2 linked regions of the Homo sapiens genome follow. The protein of the gene in region 2 purifies or fractionates together with the protein of the main gene of each other region. This does not show direct contact. Each region holds a gene or a part of one and is shown on either strand. Other genes may lie near its edges.

The links.
Region 1: the proteins of SLC7A6OS (region 2) and AAR2 purify together in Homo sapiens (affinity purification with mass spectrometry; 3 studies listed by BioGRID and IntAct, with this or other methods). This does not show direct contact.

Annotation. Positions count from the first base shown.
Region 1 is NC_000020.11:36,236,573-36,248,385, reverse strand, and holds part of AAR2 (protein AAR2 homolog), read right to left. Parts: exon of another isoform or gene 11,604-11,813; intron 11,505-11,603; exon of another isoform or gene 11,349-11,504; intron 8,566-11,348; 5' UTR 8,518-8,565; coding exon 7,761-8,517; intron 3,690-7,760; coding exon 3,460-3,689; intron 1-3,459. UniProt on the Homo sapiens protein: Component of the U5 snRNP complex that is required for spliceosome assembly and for pre-mRNA splicing.
Region 2 is NC_000016.10:68,306,258-68,318,246, forward strand, and holds the start of SLC7A6OS (probable RNA polymerase II nuclear localization protein SLC7A6OS), read right to left. Parts: upstream 4,690-11,989; 5' UTR 4,670-4,689; coding exon 4,478-4,669; intron 4,357-4,477; coding exon 4,078-4,356; intron 1-4,077. Other genes in the region: PRMT7 (protein arginine N-methyltransferase 7), read left to right, coding at 9,723-9,817. UniProt on the Homo sapiens protein: Directs RNA polymerase II nuclear import.

The sequences.
Region 1 (11,813 bases), on a different chromosome or scaffold from region 2:
CCAGCCTGGGTTACAGACCAAGACTATGTCTCAAAAAAAAAAAAAAAAGAAGAAGAAGAAGATAACCAGATGAACAAAAAATAGGCCTCGTGTAAAAGGAGCCCATGACTCAGTGCGGGAGTCAGGCAGACAATATATTAGTTTCAGCAAGCACATCTCATGCAATATAATAGCGACAAGTTCAAAGTAAGCTAAGAGTAGGGAAAGGGGAGAGTGAAAGAGAGACAGAGATTGAGACAGAGAGAGGAGGGATGGCTTGACAGAGAGGGATGCCTTGAGGGCATGTTGTAGAATGAGCAAATATGTACCAGGGAGAGGGAAAATCAGGTTCCGGCAAGAAGGTATGAAACATGGGTATAAAGTTTCAATTATGCAGGATGAAGAAGTTCTAGAGATCTGCTGGATGGCATGATGCTTATGGTTAATACTGTACTGAACACTGAAAATCTGTTAAGAGGGCATATATGTTAAATTGTGTTTTTTTTTACCACAATTTTATTTTTATTATTTTTTTTTGAGACAAAGTCTCACTGTTTTTGCCCAGGCTGGAGTGTAGTGGTGCAATCTCGAATCACTGCAACCTCTGCTTCCCCAGTTCAAGAGATTCTCCTGCCTCAGCCTCCTGAGTAGCTGGGACTAGAGGCGCCCACCACCATGCCTGGCTAATTTTTGTATTTTTAGTAGACATGGGGGTTTCACCATGTTGGCCAGGCTGGTCTCTAACTCCTGACCTCAAGTGATCCTCCAGCCTCGGCCTCCCAAAGTGCTGAGATCACAGGCGTGAGCCACCATGGACCAGCTGTTTTTTACAACAATTTTTTTTTTTAAAAAGCATGAAACAGCATAACCTGTCCAGGAACCTGCAAAGAGACCACTGTTGCTGGAGTTGATGGGGGAAAACGGAGAGGAAAGAGAAGCTGGAGAACAGGATAAGAAGCCAGATCAGAATGGCCTTTGCGACCAATGTTTAGGCTTTTAATTTTCCACGCAATGAGGAGCCACAGAGAAGCAGGATCACAGCTGCATTATGGAGCAGCACCTCAGGTGGCAGTGTGGGAGAGAGATGGGGTAACTGGTAAGCACGGAGGCTGGTAAACTCCGATGCAGTCTAGGTGAGACCAAAAGGCCGGGGCTAGGGAAATGGTACTAGGGCAGGACTGCCTTCTAAAACACTTACTGCTACCTGCTTACTGCTATTTGGTTAGTTAACTTTCTGTTAACTTTCTCAAAATACAAGAGTCTGCTATCTGGAGTTACTTGGCTAGTTAACTTTCTGTTAACTTTCTCAAATTACAAGAGTCAAGACAATGACTCTGTCTTGCTCACAGCTATATTCCCAGTTCTAGAACAGAGTCTTCTATACAGCAGATGCTCAGCAATTACCTGCTAAATCAATGAACAAATCCCTTGAGGGCAGGAACCCTGGCTAACTCACATGTATATATATTCCTCAACACTTTCAGTAGAATGTTATATATGAAGAATGCTCAAAGACATGTGTTTTTTGTTTTGTTTTGTTTTGTTTTGGCACATGCCCTGGATTTTTCCAAATAATGACATCGAATTTTCTTGGTGAAAAGTTCAAAGACTGAATGTTTCCAACCATCAGCTTTGCACAACCCACCTGGGCATCTAGCAATCCAGCTGGGCACTTTCTGCTTTGTAAATCATTGCTGGCAACAAAGCCTGGCAATTATAGAGCTCAGCTGCTGGTTGTGCTAACAATGGTCTGGACAGCCAGCAACACCGTGGCCCTCCTGTGTCTGTGCGACGCATCAACGTGCATCAGGAGGGAAGCAGCCACTGCCAGAGGCAAGTTAGCAGGCTAATGCCTCCTCACACTGCCTCACAACCCATAACCAGTACCTTTGGGGAAAATTTTCCCCACAGAGGAAGGACAAAGGGGTTTAATTTCTCTGTTATATGAAGAACCAGTAAAAGGACAGTTTTATAGCTCTTCTGAGTGGAACAGACCAGGCTCAAATCATGCGCTTGACTGACTCATTGCCATGGTTTACACAGGTCCTTCAACTGCCAGCTTTAAGTCAGATGCCTGCTCACAGGGACTCATCCAACAGTAGGTTGGCTTTAGAAAAGCGTTCTGTACCTCTGAGAAACAGGACCTCGATGAAGTCTTCACTGATGTCAATCAAGAATCCTTTCTGGGGGATTCACACTGTGTTCACTACACAAGGGCATAAGCACAGGCAGGAAACCAAGACTCAGGCCTGGGTACAAATCCTGACCTCCACCTGCCAGCTGTATGACTTCAAGTAAGTGATTTAACCATTCTCAAGTGTTCCCATTTGTAAAATGGGAATAATACCCCCATCTTACAAGGCTCCAAAGGGATTCAATGAGTGAACAGGGTCTCACTCTGTTGCCCAGGCTGGAGTGCAGTGGCACGATCATAATCATTGCTCACTATAGCCTCAAACTCCTGGGCTAAGTGATCCTCCTGTCTCAGCCTCCCAAGTGGCTAGGACTACAGGTGCACATGACCATACCTGGCCAATTTTTTAATTTTTGGAGAGACGGGGTCTCACTATATTGCCCAAGCTGGTCTTTAATTCCTGGGCTCAAGTGATCCTCCTGCCTTCACCTCCCAAAGTGTTGGGATTACAGTCATGAACCACCACGCCCAGCCCCAATATTTAACGAATGCTCGTCCCTTCTGTTACCCCGAGTGGGATTGGAAGGTTGGTGAAAGGCTGCCTTATATGGAGCAGGCCTCATGGGGGTATTACACACAGGGAGAAGAAAGAAGCTCATGGGAGGGAAAGTATGGAAACTGACAGTGGCAGCTTCTGCCTCTTCTATTCTTGAGAAAGTTACACAATGTGAGTGACAGAGGCTGTCCCAAGTACATAAAGGACTAATCTGTTTGCAAAGGGAGGAAATAGCATAGGATGAAGATTGTAAGTTGTTTGAAGCTTCTTTCCTAATTACCACTCATAATGAAAATTTAATTGCCAAGTTAAAAGCAAATTTCACTTTTTCTGTCATAGAATCTCTGCAGAAACTGGCACATTTTGTTTGAACAGGAAATCAAAGTTATTTTAATGCTTAAATGAGATCTAAGGAGCTGCAGATGTTTCACTGGGAATAACAAACTTCAAAATTCTGCTTTACTGGGTTGTAGCAATTCATGGCTACAGGGAGAAAGAAACGCTGTTTTAAGCTGAGTAAACCAAAGCAGTGGGAGGAATTCAAATCCAAGTACCCCAGTGTTAGGCACTCTGGGGACGAGGTGTAGGGAGAGGGTGGTACAGAGAGAAAATTTCTGGCATAGAGGCACTTACAATTGAGTAAGAGAGAGAAAAGCAGGAAATATCCCAAGACTAGGAAACTGAAATTTAAAAATTTTGGGGTCATGGAAGAATAGCGAGAAACAAAACACATACTGTTGCCTCAATTCTGACCCACATGTGCATCAGCTCAGTCAGAAAGACTGCTCACCTGTAAGGTGCTGGTGAGGAAGTTGTCTTGGGAGACAATGTCTACGAAGAAGTCAGCGGGGATCTCACCAAGCTGGTGGTACAGGATGGAGATGAGGTTGATGTAGAGGGTGTGGTGCTTCATCATGGCTGCTTCTGACCGGCACAGGAGGTTCAGGAGCCGCTTCCAATGCTCAAATGCCTCGTACACATTCCCCAGCAGGAAGCACACAAAAGCAAACTGGAGTTCACCTGAAAGGTGCAGAGAGGAGAAGTGATTCTGAGGGAGAGGAGGACCAGCTGACACTCTCCATCACTATTCACAAGGCCATGAATTCCACTGGACCTCAGCAACAGATGAGCTTTTATCCTTGTCACTCCTGCAGAGCCTGGCAGGAGATTTTGCACCTAACAGGTACTCAATAGATGTCTGCTGAACCGCTATGAATTCAAGCCATGGGAAACCAACCTGTGGCTTTGGATTTCTATAAAATCAGACTGCTAGAGAAGAGGTATTCCCAGTATTTGCCTGGCATTTTAAGTTTACAAAATGTGTTCATGGATATTATGCCAAGTGGATTTCAAACCTGGCTGCCCATCAGAATCACTGAGAGTCTGTTAAAAGTAAAGCTACCCAAGCTTCACCCTCAGAGGTTCTGGTGGAGGAGAGATGATGGGGCCTTCGTATCTGTAGCTCTAACAAGCTCCCCAGGTGATTCTAATGTGGATGGTCTGCTCCAGGGTCAGGAAATACTGCACTATACCATGTAACCCTCAGCCCAACTCCACAAGGCGATCAGGAAGATGGTATTTGCCTCATTTCATAGATAAGGTCAAGGGCTTGCCCAAGGCCACACATCTAATGCTTCACAATGTGGGCAACGGAAAGATAAAACAGATTCTCCATTGGGTGGGAACAGTTCTGGAACCTCCCACAAAAGAAAAATTCATGAGTACTTATTCCAGGGTCAGCCTGCCAGGCAGATTATTTTTGTTTGCTTAACCACAGGGCTCTGTGATTTAATCTCTATGAGCAGCTTGGTGGCTAAGAGCATGGGCTCTGGAGCCAAACTGCCTAGCTTCAAATCTTAGCTCTGCCACTTAGCAGCTGTGTGACCTTGGGCAAGTTACTCAATCTATTAAGGCCTCAATTTCCTTATTTGAGGGTTGTAGCAAAGATTACATGAATGGATATAGTACATGTATAGCATTTAGAATAAGACCTGGCACAAAGTAGCACTCAAAAAATATTATGTTCCCAATTTCTATCAGATGCCCATCTCAAACAGAGACCTGATGATCCAGACACCACTGTCCCTGGGCAAGTAACTGGGTCTCTGGTTACCACAGAATACTGCTCCTCATCACAGGCATTCTCTCTACTTCAAAGGTGGCTGGAAATTTAATGAGGTATACATACATGTGGGCCATAAAAAGAAGAGATGTACTCAACACCAAATACCTCTTTAAATGCATGGCGTTTGATCTGTGCCACCTCCAGAGACCTGGAAAAACTAGCTCCCTGTTCCTAAGCATACGGAACTAAGTTTGATTTGTGTGAATAGCTACCTGGTTTAGAAATTTTGGATTTCTGACCAATATTTTCAAATATAGTCAAATTTTCTTTGTATAATATAGGTTAATGATTTGCTTCTTCAGCTGGCTTTACTTGGTTTGTGAAACTAAATATTAGCCTATTATTTGCGTTTAGGACATTTATTAAATTTGTGCATTTCTGACTTTATCTAAAATTAAATTATATTTTTCAAAGAGGTGTGATGTAGATTCAAAATTATCCCTGGACAGGTGCGGTGGCAGGGATAGTCCTAGCCCTTTGAGAGGTCAGTGGAGGAGGATTGCTTGAGTTCAGGAGTTTGAGACAAGCTTGGGCAACACAGGGAGACCCTATCTCAACCAAAAATAATTAGCTGGGCGTGGTGGCACACACCTGAAGTCCCACCTACTTGGGAGGCTGAGGTGGGAGGCTCAGTTGAGCCCAGGAGGTTGAGGCTGCAGTGAGTTGTGATCATGCCACTGTACTCCAGCCCATGTCACAGAGTGAGACCTTGTCTCAAAAAAAAAAAAAAAAAAAAACCAACAAAGTTATTCCTGTAACAGACCTTTTCGCAAGATATATTTTGAAGAATTGAAATGTTTAAGAGGTAGAAAGACAGGATTTCTATTCATTTTTAAGCCAGACTTTTAAAAGTTACTTATTATACGAAAATACTAATGCATTAAGATGTACCTGTTAAAGGCTGGGTGCGGTGGCTCACGCCTGTAATTCCAGCACTTTGGGAGGCTGAGGCAGGTGGATCATGAGGTCAGGAGATCGAGACCATCCTGGCCAACATGGTGAAACCCTGTCTCTACTAAAAATACAAAACAAAATTAGCCGGGCGTGGTGGCGGGCGCCTGTAGTCCCAGCTACTCAGGAGGCTGAGGCAGGAGAATGGCGTGAACCCGGGAGGCGGAGCTTGCAGTGAGCCGAACTCACACCACTGCACTCCAGCCTGGGCGACAGAGCAAGACTCCGTCTCAACAACAACAACAACAACAACAACAACAACAACAACAACAACAAAAGATGTACCTGTTAAAATATAGGTTATATCATTAGCTGAGCCAATGATATAAAAAGTCCTGTCTAGGCACAGTAATCCCAGCACTTTGGGAAGCCGAGGCAGAAGGATCACTTGGGCCCGAGAGGTTGAGGTGGCAGTAAGACATGATTGTGTGACTGACTGTACTCCACCCTGGGCGACACAGCGAAACCCTGTCTCAAAAAAAAAAAAAAAAAAAAAAGAAGTCCTACATTCAAATTTCTCACTGAACTTCCAACAAGAAAATATGCAAATTACCTGGAAAATTTATAAATATATATAAAAATAGCTGTTCAAAATGTGACACATATTTGCTGTCACTAGTATTTAAGAAATAAAGAAATATAAACAAGGTGCCATTTTTCAGCTATCCAATTGGAAGAGGCCTTTGTTAAACTGTCATGCCCAATGCTGTCAAAGGTGATGGGCAACAGGTTCCTACCAGCCAGCAAGGATGCAAAAACCTTCTCCTGGCAACATGCACAGTCTGACCCAGCAATTCTATCCCTAAATGTATGTGTAAGTACACACGAGAATGTTCACTAGATGATATATGTATATATATTTTTGAGACGGCTCTTGTTGCCCAGGCTGGAGTGCAATGGCGAGGTCTTGGTTCACTGCGACCTCTGCCTCCTGGGTTCAAGTGATTCTCCTGCCTCAGCCTCCAGAGTAGCTGGGACTACAGGTGCACACCACCCAGCTAATTTTGTATTTTTAGTACAGATGGGGTTTCACCATGTTGGCCAGGCTGGTCTCGAACTCCTAACCTCAGGTGATCCCCACCGGCCTCAGCCTCCCAAAGTGCTGGGATTACAGGTGTGAGTCACCACACCCGGCCACTTGATGATACAATAGAGAAAACAGGGAGCATCTCAATGGTCCATAACAGAGAACTGGTCCAATAACTATGGAACATGAAACAGCCACTAAAAAAGTGACTGTTAGTGACATGAAAAAACATTTATATTAAGGCAGATTACAAAGTAATAATATACTTCAATCCTGTTTTTATAAAAACTCATATATATACAGACACATATACTGAATTTTTAAGACTGAGAGGAAGTACATAGAAATAAACAGAGAAGACATTGAAATGAAATACATAGAAATACACAGAAAAAAAGGAACGTAAATATACCAAACTGTTTAAATGGTTATTTCTAAGTAGTGAGATTTGAAGTAAATTTTGTTTTTCTTTTATGATTATTATCTATCATTTTTGTAATAAAAGGGAAGGTAACAATAAAAACTGTAATGATTAAAAAAAAAATCACTGTCCTGTTCTAAGCCAGTTGAGAGACCAACATCTTGAGGGTCAGGAGCAAACTGAGCAGGCAGGTGAGAGGCTACAACGAACACAGGTCTGGCCCAGAAACCAAGAGTCCTGGGTTCTCGTCTCAGTTCAGCCACTCAGTGGGCCAAATCTTTTCCTTCTGTAGGACTGGGCTCTATCAGTGGTTCCCAAACAGAAGATTATCTGCACCAGGTTCACCTAGGATGTTTGTTTATTAGACAGATAGAAACTGCGGAAGCCCCACTCCAGATCTCTCAAATCGAAATCTCCAGGGCTAAGGGTAAAGACACACCTGTATCTTCAGCCTCCTAGCCAGGTTTAGTTGCTGCTGGACTAACACAAGATGTACTCCCTATTCCAAAACACCTCTGCTAATATCCTCCCCTTGGCCCACTCCCAAAGAGCCTTGTTCCTTCTCACCAAGCACATCCTGGGGGCTGCTGGGGAACTGCTTGTTGAGCACAGTCTCCAGGGCATAGCTCAGGTCCATGCTGTGCTTGGTTATCTCAGCTGGCGTGGCACCCTCTGGGAACATCTGCGTGGGCAGCTCTGAGAAGCGGATCTCTGTCCCGGCTCTGGGCTTCATCTCTGGTAGCCGGGCCAGGCCCTCTTGGTAGCTTTTGCACTCAATGCCACAGCGGGGTAGATTCTGCCCCACGCGGTCCTTGGTGTGCTTCATGGAGAGCACAGGTAGCACATCGGAAAAGGCACAGATCTGTCGATTCTCGGGCTGTAGCTTCTCCACTGTGGCTTCGCTGATGAAGTTGGTGAGTGAGATCCACTTCTTCAGGGTGGCATATGGGTAAGGCCCCAGGAACTGGTCCAGCTCCTGGAGGTTGGCCCTCATGGCCTCCACCTCAGACTCTGGGGCTGGGGACAGGTCTACCTCTTCCCTGAGTGTGCTCCAGCGCAGCACTGTCAGCCCCCGCTGGTGCAGGCTAAGGAAGAAACCCATACGAGGGCCTACTTCCTTCGGATTAGCCTTGTCCACAGAGCTGTAGTGGAGGAAGTGGATGCCTGGAGGGATCATCTTCACGCCCCGGAACTTGGGCCCGACCTCCCAGGAGTTATAGTCAATCCCAAACTCTGTTCCCTTGGGCATGTTCAGGATGACCACAGTGGCCCCTTCAAAGAAGAGGCGCTTGGCTAGCTCAGGATCCATCTGCACGGCAGCCATGGGGCCAGTGGTGGGTGACCAAAAGAACCCTTTTTCTTTGATGAACAGCTGAGAAAGAAAGAAACCAGAGTTAATCAGAACGTGGGGGAAAGATGCTTCATTTGCTAAGCATTCTGTATGTGCCAGATATTGAGTTAGACCCCTGACATAATTATTTCCCTTAATCCTCATGACAACCCTGCATTGAGTTTACAGATGAGAAAAACGAGGATTAAAGGAAAGGATTTTTGTGTTTTGGCTTAACATGCAAGGACACTCACTTCACAGCTATAAGATACCAGTGAAAGAAAAGTGACATGCTCATGGTCATACCAGGACCCAAATTAGAATCTGGATACCCTGCCTGCAGGCCAGTGTTCTGTCCACCGTCCATTCTTAATATCTTCTCAGATCTCTTTCTCACAACAGAGGGTGAGGGTGGAAAATGCCTGGACAGGTCACTCTAAACTATATGCCTACATCATTTAAAACTACAATTCTGCCAAAAAACTATCCCAAAAGATTTGGAAAGATTAAATCAAGTACATATCCAGTTTCCCATAAGCCTCAGGGAAGGCCCAGAAATGGACAGACGGTAGCAAGTGGAGGCTCAGCATCTAAAGTTTGTTCAGGGTCTAGAGAGCTTTCCTACCACAAATCTCCCCTCTTCTTTCACTCATAAAAAACCTAAACTCCAGGGAGTGAAACAACTTCCCAAAGAGCCCACAATCAGTGGTGGCTCTGGACCATTCATCCAGAATGAATTCAGGTGGTAAAGCTAGCCTAGGAAGAGAAAGCTGGCCAGAAGAGAAAGAGCTTAGTACACTTATTTTACCTACTTCTGAATATCCCAGACATTGCCTCTGGGATATCGGCAAGAATGGTACCAACATGAACAAATGTAAACAAACCATTATGCAACCTTCTAGTCCTAAGATACCTACCTGACTAATTTAACAAATACTCACTGAGTGCCTGCATTGTGCCAGGATCTTTGCCAGGCCCCCAAAAAACATCACAGATTAAGACAGTCACTGCCCTCTAGGCAATTCCAATCTAGCCAAGACGTCAAAATTTCACACACAGAAAAACGAGCTGCCTGTTTAATTGTTTACTTTTTTTTTTTTTTTTTTTGAGACAGGGTCTCGCTCTGTCACCCCAGCTGGAGTGCAGTGGCGTGATCTCGGCTCACTACATCGTCCACCTCCCGGGTTCAAGCAATTCTTGTGCCTCAGCCTCCCAAGCAGCTGAGACTACCGGTGTGTGCCACCACACCTGGCTAAGTTTTGTATTTTTAGTACAGAGAGGGTCTCACCATGTGGCCTAGGCTAGTCTGGAACTCCTGACCTCAGTGATCTGCCCGCCTCGGCCTCCCAAAGTGCTGAGATAACAGGTGTGAGCCACCATGCCTGGCCCTGTTTACCCTTTTTACTTTAAATAAAGCAGTGCAGAAAGGAAGACCAATCCTTTTCCAAAAATAAGAGCACATTTTATCATTGTTACCTCAAAACCACCACAAATGACTCTTACCCTGAATCAGCACTTTGTGTTTCACCAAACTGCAAGTCACAATCCATTAGTGGATTAGGAAATCAATGTGAAGGTCTCAACCAGCATTATTTTTTAAACGAAAATAACAGAATTTTTGAAATATCACAATACATCATGAGTAGTAAAGCTAAGTACTGTTTTCTGGAGCTTTGTGTGTTTGTGTGTATACTTGGTTGTGCCATAAAATGTATTCGTTACTGTAGGTCACAGTCATAAAAGTTTGAAAGACTCTGCTCTAAATAATTCGTATCAACAGGCCGGGCGTGGTGGCTCACGCCTGTAATCACAGCACTTTGGGAGGCCGAGGCGGATGGATAATGAGGTCAGGAGTTTGAGACCAGCCTGGCCAATACTGTGAAACCCCATCTCTACTAAAAATACAAAAAAAATTAGCCGCGCATGGTGGTGTGCGCCAGTAGTCCCAGCTACTTGAGAAGCTGAGGCAGAAGAATTGCTTGAACCTGGGAGGCAGAGGTTGCAGTGAGCTGAGATCACACCACTGCACTCCAGCCTGGGGGTCTGAGCGAATTCCGTCTCAAAATAATAATAATAATAATAATAATAATAATAATAATAATAATAATAATACGTATCATCTTCCTATTTGTAATCCTGAATTCAGAAAGTATTTAATATTTGCTGAATGAACAGATATTCCATTTACAATAACAGCTCATCAATTAGCCATTTTCCCTTGTGACATCTGTGTGCTCCTCCTTGATAATGACGTTTCTTTCATGCTAATTCCACCAGTCTGTAATTCTATTCACTATATCTCCAGCAGCTGGCACAGGGCCTAGCACAGAGGAGATGCTAGGAAAACGTTTATTAAATATGCATAGAACTCTGCAGTCTACCAGCCCCTGTCACTGACAGCTCTGTGAGTTCCTCACAGTCCTGGAACACCTAAAGTCACATCCATCCACTTCTCTCCACCACCTCCCTAATCCAAGCTACCATCGTCCCTCACTCAGAGTGCTTGCTCCTCAACCCATTCTCCATTCAACAGCAGTAACCTTTTCAAAATGCCAATCTAATCACAACACCACCCATGTCAGCTTCTGAGTGGTTTCCCATATGGTTCTTGAAAAACCAGAATTCTTCCTATTACCTACAAAGCCTGCACGGTCTGACTCCTGGCAACCCCTTTAGCTTGTGTCACACAATGGTCCCCCACAAGCTCTCTGTTCCAGCCACAACGGCCTCTTTCAGAACCTGAAATTGGAGGCTGTCTCCATATAGAAAACTCTTCCCTCCCCACTTTGTCAAATCCTTTTTTCTGATCTCAGCTCAATATTCACCTCCTCAGTAAAGGTTCCTTGCCCTGGGGCTAGGTCAGGTCTCCTGTGATATAATCTGGGGTGCCTTGTACCTTTCCGTCTCAATGATCACAACTGCAGTTTTGGATGTTTGATTGAAGGCTGTCATCGCCACGAGACTTGAGTCCTGCTGTATCCCTAGCACAGATTCAACGCTTAGTAAACATTTATTTAATACAAGTATGATATCCATTTTGTAAACGAGAAACAAAGCCTCAGTTCGGGGAAAGACCTTACTGGAAGTCACGCAGAGAGTAGGGCAGAGCCAGGTCGAGTGCAATCAGGGTCTCCGGCCCCCAGGCTCTAAAGTTAAGAAAACCGCGACGTAACTCTGGCGACGGCTTCTCAGGAAGGGCCTCCAGAGACACCAGCGTCCCACAAACAGAGAACCAGCCGCCCCGGCGAGGTGGGCCTAGTTCAAGGCACTCCGTGACTCTGAGCCGAGAA
Region 2 (11,989 bases):
ACCCAGGCTTGAGTGCAATGGCGTGATCTCAGCTCACTGCAACCTCTGCCTCCCGGGTTCAAGTGATTCTCCTGCCTCAGCCTCCTGAGTAGCTGGGATTACAGGTACGCACCACCATGCCTGGCCAATTTTTGTATTTTTAGTAGAGACCGGGTTTCACTATGTTGGTCAGGCTGGTCTCAAACTCCTGACCTCATGATCCACCCACCTTGGCCTCCCAAAGTGCTGGCATCACAGGCATGAGCCACCGCGCCCGGCCTATTATTGCTTAAAGAGGCGGTTTTCATTATGTTGCCCAAACTGGCCTTGAACTCCTAGCCTTAGATGATCTTTCTGTTTCAACCTCCTGAGTAGCTGGGACTAAAGGTGTGCACCACTCCTCCTAGCTAGAAGAAAAATAATTATTATTATTTCTGTAGAGATGGAGTCTTGCTATGTTGTTCAGGATGGTCTTGAACTTCAGGCCTCAAGCAATCCTCCTGCCTTAGCCTCCCAAAGTGCTAGGATTATAGGAGTAACCCACCGTACCCTTGCTGAAAATTATTTTGAAGTCTATGTCCATGTGTATTCATTCATTCATTCATTCATTCATTCATTCACTCAGAATCAGGGTCTTGCTCTGTCGCCCAGGCTGGAGGGCAGCAGTATGATCATGGCTCACTGCAGTCTTTAACTCCCGGGCTCAAGTGCTCCTTTCTTGGCCTCCCAAAGTATTGGGATTACAGGTGTGAACTACTGAGCCCAGCCCATATTTTCAGTTTCACTACACACAGCATTTTGTACTGTTAAACATATATATTTTCGCCCACAATCAGTTTTCATGGTTATCAGTTCTAAGGGTCCAGACAGTTGTATGTGTCAACCTCTTGGATATAATTTTTAACCTCCATGTATAGTGTTGCAATGAATGTGCCATTTCCTGCATTTGAAAAGTATCTCACTCATAAGGTTTTTGTGAGGATTAAATGAGTTAAATTAAAAGAAAATATAACAAGTACCTAGCACGCTATTTGACATAATTACTTAGTCAATCAACAGTAGCATTTGTTAATATCATAGCTTAGCTTAGCTGTTTGCTTCTGCTGAATTATCTCCCTAGGATAAATCTTGGAGGTGAGACTACTAGTTAAAAGGAACTGAAGTCCTTTAATTTTTAAATTTCCTATTAAATTTATCTAATAGGAATTTATTTGCTTAAAATGTAAATTGTGTCAATTTAAGGAGAAATTCATTGTAACATAACATAGAAATGCTGTCATTTTTAAATTTCCTTAGAAATTTTTAATTTTAAAATTTTCCTAGATTATGCATGGCTTTAGATCCAAACAATAATAAATTTACATATGTAAAACATGGCTCCCATGCCATCCTGTTTTCCAAAAGGCTTGCATCAATTTTATTCCTACAATTGTGTACGCTTTTAATCATTGCCTTGCCAGCATTGCTATCAACTACTTTTTTCCTGCTAGTCTAGTATGCATAAAACCTCAAGCATGCTTTAAGCTTAAATTCATTTTTCCCCTATAATTACTCTGTGCAAACATTTTTGGTATGTTTAGAGTCGGTATTGCTTTACTGGAAAAATCTCTGTTCATATCGGTCATCAGTTTATCTCCTAGTTTTCTTTATAAAATTAAATTAGCTATTTACTCTTGTTTTTTGAGATGGAGTTTTGCTCTTCTCGCCCAGGCTGGAGTGCAGTGGTGCAATCTTGGCTCACTGCAACCTCTGCCTCCCGCGTTCAGGCGATTCTCCTGCCTCAACCTCCCGAGTAGATGGGATTACAGGCGCCCGCCACCACGCCCGGCTAATTTTTGTATTTTTAGTAGAAATGGGGTTTTGCCATATTGGCCAGGCTGGTCTTGAACTCCTGACCTCAAGTGATCCACCCGCCTCAGCCTCCCAAAGTGCTGGGATTACAGGCATGAGCCACTGTGCCCGGCCTAGTGAACTATTTACTTGATTCAATTCCACGGAGCATTGGTTTACTTTACACATTTTGTAAGTCATGCATTAGTCTGGAATGTTTTGGTGAAAGATGTGGCTATGGACATCATACACAAATTGCTATCCACTTACACTAGCACCAGCTGGACGTGGTGGCTCACGCCTGTAATCCCAGCACTTTGGGAGGCCGATGCGGGTGGATCACCTGAGGTCAGGAGTTCAAGACCAGCCTGGCCAAGGTGGCGAAACCCCGTCTCTACTAAAAATACAAAATTAGCCGGGTGTGGTGGCTCATGCCTGTAATCCCAGCTACTCGCGAGGCTGAGGCATGAGAACTGCTTGAATCCAGGAGGCAGAGGCTGCGGTGAGCCGAGATCGCGCCACTGCACTACAGCCTGGGCGACAAGGGCGAGACTCCATCTCAAACAAAACAAAAACAACAATAAACAATTACACTAGTACCATTTGCTTGTTGCTTGTGGATTCATTTTGAATTATAATTGTTTTAAGTTGCAAAAATAATTAAAATGAGTTCTATAAAAATGTTTATCAAGAGAGGGCATATTGGCTAGGCGCAGCGGCTCATGCCTGTAATCCCAGCACTTTGGGAGGTTGAGGCGGGCGGATCACTGAGGCCAGGAGTTCAAAACCAGACTGGCCAACATAGCGAAACCCCGTCTCTACTAAAAATACAAAAATTAGCTGGGTGTGGTGGCTCACGCTTGTAATCCCAGCTATTTGGGAGGCTGAGGTAGGAGAATTGCTTGAACCCGGGAGTTGGAGGTTGCAGTGAGCCAGCATCATGCCAATGCACTCTAGCCTGGGCAACAGAGTGAGACTCTGACTCAAAAAAAAAAAAAAAAAGAGAGGGCACACTTTATGTTGAGAATTTTCTGGTTTTTTTTTTAGAGACAGTATCTTGCTCTGTTGCTCAAACCAGAGGGCAGTGACTTGATCACAGCTCACTGCAATCTCTAATTCCTGAGTTTAAGTGATCCTCCTGCCCCAGCCTCCCCAGTAGCTAGGACTACAAGCGCGTGCCACAATGCCCAGCTAATTTCCTCTTCCTTTTTGTAGTGACAAGGTCTTGCTTTGTTGCCCAGGCTGGCCTCAAGCGACCCTCCTGCCTCAGCCTCCCAAAGCGCTGGGATTACAGGGAGTATTTTATTTTTTTTTGAGACAGGGTCTCACTCTGTCACCTAGGCTGAAATGCCACTGCCGCACAATCATGGCTCACTGTAGCCTTGACCTCCCCAGGCTCAAGTGATCCTCCCGCCTGGGCCTCCCTACGTGCTAGGATTAGGCGTCAGCTACTGTGCCCAGCCTCAAGGAGAATTTTCCATTTCTGTAGTTTTGCTGCATGTAGTAGACTTTTTTTGGAAGTGATTGCAAATGAAGTTAGCAAATGTAATATAAAGAAAAGCACTGGATTAAATGTGAGAAAACTTGCATTCTAGACCTAAATCTACCTCAAACTTGATATGCTATCCAGGACTATTCCTTTAACCTCTCTTTGATCAATTTTCCTACCTGCTCTATCTCTATTTTGCTCCAGTGATCCCCATCTCAGTCAGGGTGAAAGGCAATGTCCTTGCAAGTACCTAGCAGGCATCCTCCCCTCAAATTCCTTACTGCTCTCCTCTAGCTCACCGGGCTCCAGGCACCTTGCAAGGAGCAAAGAAACGGCTTAAGGGCCTCTTTACTTTCAGGTTCTCTGCCTAGAAGTCCTCTCGATATGTGGAATACCCTGCCATTCACCTTCTGCAAGTCTTCACTCAAATGTCATTTCCTCAGTGACACTCTCACTGAAGTGGCACCACTCTTCCTGCTTTGTCTCCCCGCCTCCTTACATCCCTTATCATCATCTGACACTGAATAGACTTGTTTACTGTTTCTGTCTACCTGCATGTTAGGTCCTCACTGCTGTATCCACAGAATCTAAAAAAATACCTGGCATATCGTAGGCACGTAGTAAACACATGTTGGATGAACAACCAAATCTGTAAAATGAGGCCGTCACGCCGGATGGATCATCCATCCCCTTAAGATGAAACTGTGCTGCGACTGGGCCCAGTCTTCTTGCATTACCATCCTGAGAAGCCCAGCGACCACCTTCAGGGGCATACTCACTTTGCAGGAGCCTGCAGAGGCGGCTTCAGGTTCTCCCTCCTCGTGGACAAGGTCTAACAACTGAAAGCCCGAGTTCCCGGCGGCTTCTGGGTTCCCCGGCGTGTACTCGGACTCCTGGCCGCTCGAGGTGGTCCCCAAGGATCGGCGGCTGGAAAGCACCCGGTAGCGGCCCTCCTGCCGGACCTCCCGAGCCGAGGCGCGGAGATTACGGCGGACACGCTGCTGGCTGTCCCGTGACGGGCGCAGAACTTCCCGCAGGAGAGGCTGGACTGGTTCCTCCTAGGGGGCAACAGGGGACGGAGGCCAGCGTAAGCAGGAGTTCGCGAGCGGGTCAGGGATCGGGTTTCGTACCGGCTGCACCCGAAGATGCCCTCCACACCAGCTGCACCACGCCCAATACCTGGGAGCACACAGTGGCCACCAAGTGGAAGACATTATTCTCCGCCGCTCTCTCCAAACCCTCCGACGTCTTCTGTGCCGCTGACTCGACCGCGTCGCTCCGGAGGCGTTTACAAGCGAGCACAAGAGCCTCCGCCGGCTCCGCACTGCGCTTCCGCTTCACCCGGAGTACAGCGGTCCTGGCGGCCTCCATAGTGGCTGCCGCTGAGCACTGTGGGAGCTCGCGGGGTGTGATGGGATAGCTTTCCAGTTCTGCTTTAGGACCCGCCCCCCAGCACGCTCCTCGACGCTGCGAGGTCCCGCCCCGCGTGCTGGCCGCGGTAAAAGTGGTAGCAGCGGAGGCGAGCGGAGGGTTTCCCGCGGCGGGTGAGGCGCTGGGTATGCTGGGAAGGTGGGGTCGCTTTGGGGTTCTGTGTGCAGCGAGCATGGTGTCCTTGGCACCAGGGTTTCGGCAGAGGAGCCTAGCGTGGGCCTACTTGGACTCCTCCGCGTGGGGCAGCTCGGGACACCCGGGCCTGCAGGAGAGCGGGGTTCTAGGCTGGCCCCGGCTCTGCAGTGCAGCCGGGTGCCTGCCACTCGCGGGGCTCTGTCGCAGTACTCGTGCCTGGCGCCTCCCCTCAGCCACAGAGACCGCAGTAGCTCCAACCATCGCACCCCTAACTGGGCCACGAGTTCTCTGATTGCCAGACCTGTTGTCTTTGCCACTCACTGTTCTGAGTAATTGGAGAGTCGTGTATTCACTACACGCCAACCAGAGTGGTCCTGTAAAAGCGTAAGCCTAGTGTAGATACGCTTCTGCTTAAAACTCTTGAGTGGCTCCCAGTGCTTTTAGAACAAAATCCAAACGCCTTTCCGAAGTCGACAAGGCCCAGCTTGATTGAGCAGAAGATGTGATAGGAGATGAGGAGCGGGGGGCTTCTGCAAAAGTGCTTCGGTCGCTCAGGCTTTTGGCACATTTTGCTTATGCAACCTAGTTCTTTCTACCTTAGGGCCTTTTCTTGGGAAAGTTGGGGTAAGGATTCCTGACCTGTAAAAACTCTTCCCCAACTTTTATCCCGGTCTGTCTTGTAGATCTCAAATGCTAGTTTCCTCAGAGTCCTTCTGTAACCTTGGTTTTCTCTTTCTACAACGCTCTGTGTATTTCTTGCATTCATGTAGTCTGTAATTTGTATTACTCTCTCATTAGAGTCTAAGCTCTTGGAGGGCAAGGGTCTTCTCTAGCTTGTGGTGGTGGCTCCAGTCCCTAATATAGTGCCTGGCACATAGAAGGTATTTAATAAATTTTGTTATTTTATTTTTTCGAGACAGAGTCTCACTCTGCTGCCTAGGCTGAGTGCAGTGGTGTGATCGAGGCGCACTGCAGCCTTGACCTCCTGGGCTCAAGCGATCCTCACCTCGGCCTACCGAGTAGCTGGGACTACAGGCACGCGCCACTACACTCGGGTAATTTTTAATTTTAATATATGTATATTTATATATATATATATATATATATATTTTTTTTTTTAAGACAGGGTCTCACTCTGTCACCCAGGCTGGAGTTCAGTGGCGCCATCTCTGCTCACTGCAACCTCTGCCTCCCGGGCTCAAGTGATTCCCCTACCTCAGCCTCCCGAGTAGCTGGGAGTAACTGGGACTACAGGCACAGGCCACCGCGCCCGGCTAATTTTTTTAAAAATTTTTTGTAGAGAACGGGGTCTCACTATGTTGCGCAGGCTGGTCTGGAACTCCCAGACTCGATATCCTTGCGTCTCGGCCCCTCACAGTGCTGGGATCACAGGTGTGAGCCACCACCGCCTAGCAAATACATTTTGAATGAATGTAGTGGACCATCTGCTCTGCAGTCTGACGGCTAATACAATTAGGGCTTGGCATGGTGGTTTCTATTTCCTCCTTGTAAATGGCCATGCAAGTTTACAACTCTTGGAGAATGAGGAGGGGTTCAGAGAATATCTCCTGAATCTGTAGTGTAGACTGCTTCTGGGAGAGAACAAATAATAATGGATGAGGGCATTCAGCCAGAGAAGGTGTGTAGTGCCCACCAGAAGAGGTTCATGCCTTCATAAAATTGTTAACACAAGACATAGTTCCAGGTTTGTTTGTTTGTTTGAGATACAGTCTTGCTCTGTTGCCCAGGCTGGAGTGCAGTGGCGCGATCTTGGCTCACTGCAACCTCTGCCTCCCAGGTTCAAGCAATTCTCCTGCCTCAGCCTCCCAAGTAGCAGGGATTACAGGCACCTGCCACCATGCTGGCTAATTTTTTGTATTTTTAGTAGAGACGGGGTTTCGCCATGTTGGCCAGGCTGGTCTCGAACTCCTGACCTCAGGTGATCCACCTGCTTTGGTCTCCCAAAGTGCTGGGATTATAGGCGTGAGTCACCGTGCCTGGGCTGTTCCAGGTTTTGAAAAGACACTGTGGTCCTGGTTTTAGACTCAGCAACATCACAGACAAGAAAGGAATCCTATGGATTAAAGTTCTTCACTATAAGTTTTTTTTTTCCTCCAGTTCAAATGGGTAACGTGCCAATGTAGTAAAGGTTTGAGGGAGGCACGTCTGACACAGGCACATGAACACCCAGTCATCACGCTTATGAACTACAAAACGATGACTCTTAACCTTGAAGTGACTTCAGAATTGATTCCACATGGACCACAGGATTAGTATTTCAGGACTCTACCATATGGATCCTATTGATATGTTTGACACCTGGTCCAGTTTTACTTCACTAAACTGATTGATATAATGTGCATGATTGTCTAAGCCTTTCTAATTGGATGAAATGCCTTCTCCGTCCACAACCCCCTCCTTCTCCTCCTGCCTCAGCTGAATCCACCTTTTAAGCCTTCCTTGAACATTCAGTCAGATATGGCCATTTCTTTCTCTACTCCAACATTTGTTGGACACAGTTTTCTAATGCACATTACAGATTCTGACAGTTCTAGATATTCTGTCTGTAAAATAAATGTTAGTACATGAGATAAAGTGGATTATAGCAATGTTGTTAAACTGCTGGTTGCAACCCATTGATGGGTCCTGACCAGCAAGTAAAAGTGCAGCTGGGTGCCGTGGTGCATGCCGGTAGTCTAGCTACTTGGGAGGCTGACGTAGGAGGATCGCTTGAGTCCAGGAGTTTAAGGCTGTAGAGTGTAATGATCATGCCTGTGAATAGCCACTGTGATCCAACCTGGACAGCAGGGAGATCCCATCTCTTAAAAACAATAAAAATGAAATAGAGCATATCAGAGGGCCTTGTTCGTAGGAAGTCAGTATTGTTTTGTGGAACATTTAGTTGTATGCGTACATGCAGGTATGTGTATTGAGTCTCATTTTAAAGTATATTTCTTACTGGGGTTATCAGAAAGTTTGAAAATCATTAGACTAGGGGATAGGTATGCTGAGATTTTAGTAGTAGAGTTTTACCTGGACAAATTGTCTACTTTGAACCTGACTGCCGGCCTGAGTTTGTTCAGGGAAGATTGTTTCTAATCTATTTGCTTTTTGTTTGTTTGTTTTGGTGACGGAGTCTTACTCTGTTGCCCAGGCTGGAGTGCAGTGGTGCGGTCTCAGCTCACTGCAACCTCCGCCTCCTGGATTCAAGTGATTCTCCTGCCTCAGCCTCCTGAGTAGCTGGGAATACAGACGTGCGCCACCATGTCTGGCTAATTTTTGTATTTTTAGTAGAGACGAGGGTTTCGCCATGTTGGCAAGGCTGGTCTTGAACTCCTGACCTCAGGTGATCCGCCTGCCTTGGCCTCCCAAAGTGCTGGGATTACAGGTGTGAGCCACCGTGCCCAGCCTGTTTCTCATCTATTTGTGTAAGAATTCCATGTTTACTTACTCTAGATAACTTCAAAAGAAAAAAAACTCTGGCCAATAAAATGCCATAGGAATGTTTAGGGATATGTGGAGTAGGCATTCTTTCTAAGTTTTCCTGAAGATGCACCAATGTTTAACAAGAAAGGAAGGGCAGTGTAGAACACCTATTGCTTTCTGCATGGTAAGAGGGATGGGTATTGGGAGAGCCCACACCTGCTGAGGAGTGCCTTTAGACTTTGAGCGGTGGTGTTTCTCTCCCTCCCAGAAATAGATCTCTTTGGGGAGACAGGCCATACAAGACGTGAATCTGGTGACATTTTACTTGTTTGAAGCAAAATTTTTTTAGATGATGGAGGGTTTTTAAAAATTGCTTTTAAAATTAAAATTTGAATAGATAAGAAGTAATCACTATAAAAAATAATGAAGCATAAGGAATGCTAGTATTAGCTGGGTGTGGGGCACTCACTTGTAGTCCCAACTACTGGAGAGGCTGAGGCAGGAAGAATGCTTGAGCCCAGGAGTTTGAGTCCAGCCTGGGCAACATAACGAGACCCCATCTTTTAAAAAAAAAAAAAAAGAAAAAGAATGCTAATATCGTGAACATTTATGTTCCCACCACCCAATTTAAGAAAAAGAACAATACTTTTGAAGTCCACTGCGTACCCCTCCTTGATCCCATCTCTTTCCCTTCTCTTTTAGGAGTTAACTATCCTGATTCCTTGCTATGCTTTTTAGTGTGATCCCTGAAGAACGTATCACTCCATTTTGCATAGCTATAAATTTCATAGAAATGGAATCGTATTGCATGTGTTGTGTGATTTGCTGTTTTTGCTCATCATTATATTCCTGGGATTATCCATTTTTAGGTTTATGTGTGACTGTAATTTATTGTTTAGATGAAAGTTTTCCTGGTTTGACTTGCTCTATCTTCATATTTTTCCTTAAGCTAAGGGTTCAGCATACGAAGGCAGTATTGGTGGCACTTCTTTAACAGTACCCCATCTCTTCTCCTAGCCTTGAGGGCTGCACCTAGATGAACTTGTGAGGCTCATTTGAACCTTTTGGAAGCACCGAAGCCTGCTGAAGTTTCCAGACATCTGTATGAATCTGTTGTAGTTTTTTAATGTTATATGCTGAATATAAAACCAAGTAACTCCTGCTGGAAACATTTACAATATCGATTAACAAATACTATCAGTGGCTTTGACATTTTTGTCAGTTTCTTGATTTTTTTCCCCGCTTTTGTCTCCCCTTCCCCCCTCCACATTTTGGGGCATTGTGCTGTTAATAGATTTTTTTTCTGTTCGTTTGTTTATATACCTCCTGTTTCCTTCTGATGTTAATAGATTTCTGACAGTCAGACTTGTCCACAAGAACTCAACTGGCAAGGCTGCTTTTCTGTGCTAAAACTGGGGAGCTAGTGGGCACCATGAAGATCTTCTGCAGTCGGGCCAATCCGACCACGGGGTCTGTGGAGTGGCTGGAGGAGGATGAACACTATGATTACCACCAGGAGATTGCAAGGTACTGGGTTGGTTTACAGCAGGCTGCAGCTGGGTGGGGCACTTGATCTCAAAGCAGATGCCTTGGGCTCCAGTCTGAGCGTGGGCTAGGCTGTCACCCAGTGCTTATGATGAGGGCTGGTGTTGGTCCTGAGCAGGTCTGCTCAGCCAGGTAGGTATATGTAGCAGTTAGGCAAAATCATGCCTGTTTGGAGAGTCAGACATTATGTAGCAGCCTTAGCAGAGCCTCAGCATCTGTTTAACGGAGCAAAGAAAACCCAAGCCTCAGTAGTGTTGATGAAGTTGAATCATTTACTTGCCTTACTGAAATGGTGACATGTTCATCATATGGTTAAATTCTTTTGAATGAAAAAAATGAAAATGGTTTTTTTTTTCCCTTAGAAGAAATATTTAAAAGTATGTGAGTTGTTGGCCAGGCGCAGTGGCTCACGCCTCTAATCCTAGCACTTTGGGAGGCCGAGGTGGCCAGATCACCTGAGGTCAGGAGTTCGAGACCAGCCTGACCAACATGGAGAAACCCCGTTTCTACTAAAAATACAAAATTAGCTGGGCATGGTGGCTCATGCCTGTAATCCCAGCTTACTTGAGAGGCTGAGGCAGGAGAATCACTTGAGCCTGGGAGGCAGAGGTTGTGTTGAGCCGAGATCGAGCCATTGCACTCCAGCCTGGGCAACAAGAGCGAAACTCTGTCTCAAAAAAAAAGTATGTGAGTTGTTATGTAGCAATCATTAAGTGCATTCAGTGTGCCAGCATTGTGCTAAGGCTGTGGATACCAGATGAAGAAGATCCTGTTCTCATCTTCAAGGACCATGCAGTTTTGTGGAAGAGACAGGCACATACAAAATTACAGCACAAAAGCCAGGCACGGTGGCTCATGCCCGTAATCCCAGCACTTTGGGAGGCAAAGGGCGGGCGGGCGGGCGGTGGAGGGGGTGGTGGCGGCTGATCACTTGAGGGTCAGGAGTTCGAGACCAGCCTGGCCAACACGGTGAAACCCCGTCTCTATAAAAAAAAATTAGCTGGGAGTGGTGGTGGGCGCCTGTAATCCCAGGTACTCGGGAGGCTGAGGCAGGAAAATCACTTGAACTCGGGAGGTGGAGGTTGCAGTGAGCCAAGGTTGTGCCACTGCACTCCAGCCTGGGTAACAGAGTGAGACTCTGTCTCAAAAAAAAAAAAAAAAAAATTACAGCACAGTGAGATAAAGGCACAAGAGGTCATGGAAGCAGCAAGAACCAGCTGAACTTGGGGTGGGAGGTAATGTTTGAATAATTTCTCAGTTCTAAAGGAAGAGAAGGTGAAGTTTGAGCAGCAGGGATTACAGGTAAGCTTTCAGATGAGCCAGATTGTGGCTGGGTGCAGTGGCCTACACCTGTAGTCCCAGCTACTTGGGAGGCCAAGGCAGGAGGATTGCTTATGCCCACGAGTTCAACATAGTAAAACACTGTCTCACAAACAAACAAAGACCAAAAACAGGCTGGGCACAGTGGCTCATGCCTGTAATCCCAGCACTTTGGGAGACCAAGGCGGGCGGATCACCTGAGGTCGGGAGTTCGAGACCAGCCTGACCAACATGGAGAAACCCTGTCTCTACTAAAAATACAAAATTAGCCAGGTGTGGTGGCGCATGCATGCCTGTAATCCCAGCTGCTCGGGAGGCTGAGGCAGGAGAATCACTTGAACCTGGGAGGCGGAGGTTGCCATGAGCCGAGATCGTGCCATTGCATTCCAGCCTGGGCAACAAGAGCTAAACTCTGTCTCAAAAAAAAAAAAAGAAAAAAAACCACACACACACAGATGGGCTATTCTGGGGAGCAGCTAGCAGTTTAGTGCAGCTGGAGTGTGGTACAAAAGTACTATGGTAAGAGAGGCTGCCGAAAGCATACGCGGGGTCATTTTGTAAAGGGTGGTAGCAAAATGCAGGAAGAGGAACATGAGTTTAAGTCCAAGCTTTGCCACTTCTTTACTCTCTTGGCCAAGTTACTTCTCTGAGCCTTAATATAAAATAATATATACTTCAATATAGTAATACATTATCTCACAGTATAATACAATTATCTTAGAATTGTTTGATGATTAAATGTAATACAGTATCTGGTGCAGAATTAGGGCTTAAAATATTTACTTTTTTTTCTTTTTTTTTTTTTGAGACAGAGTCTCGCTCTGTTTCCCAGGC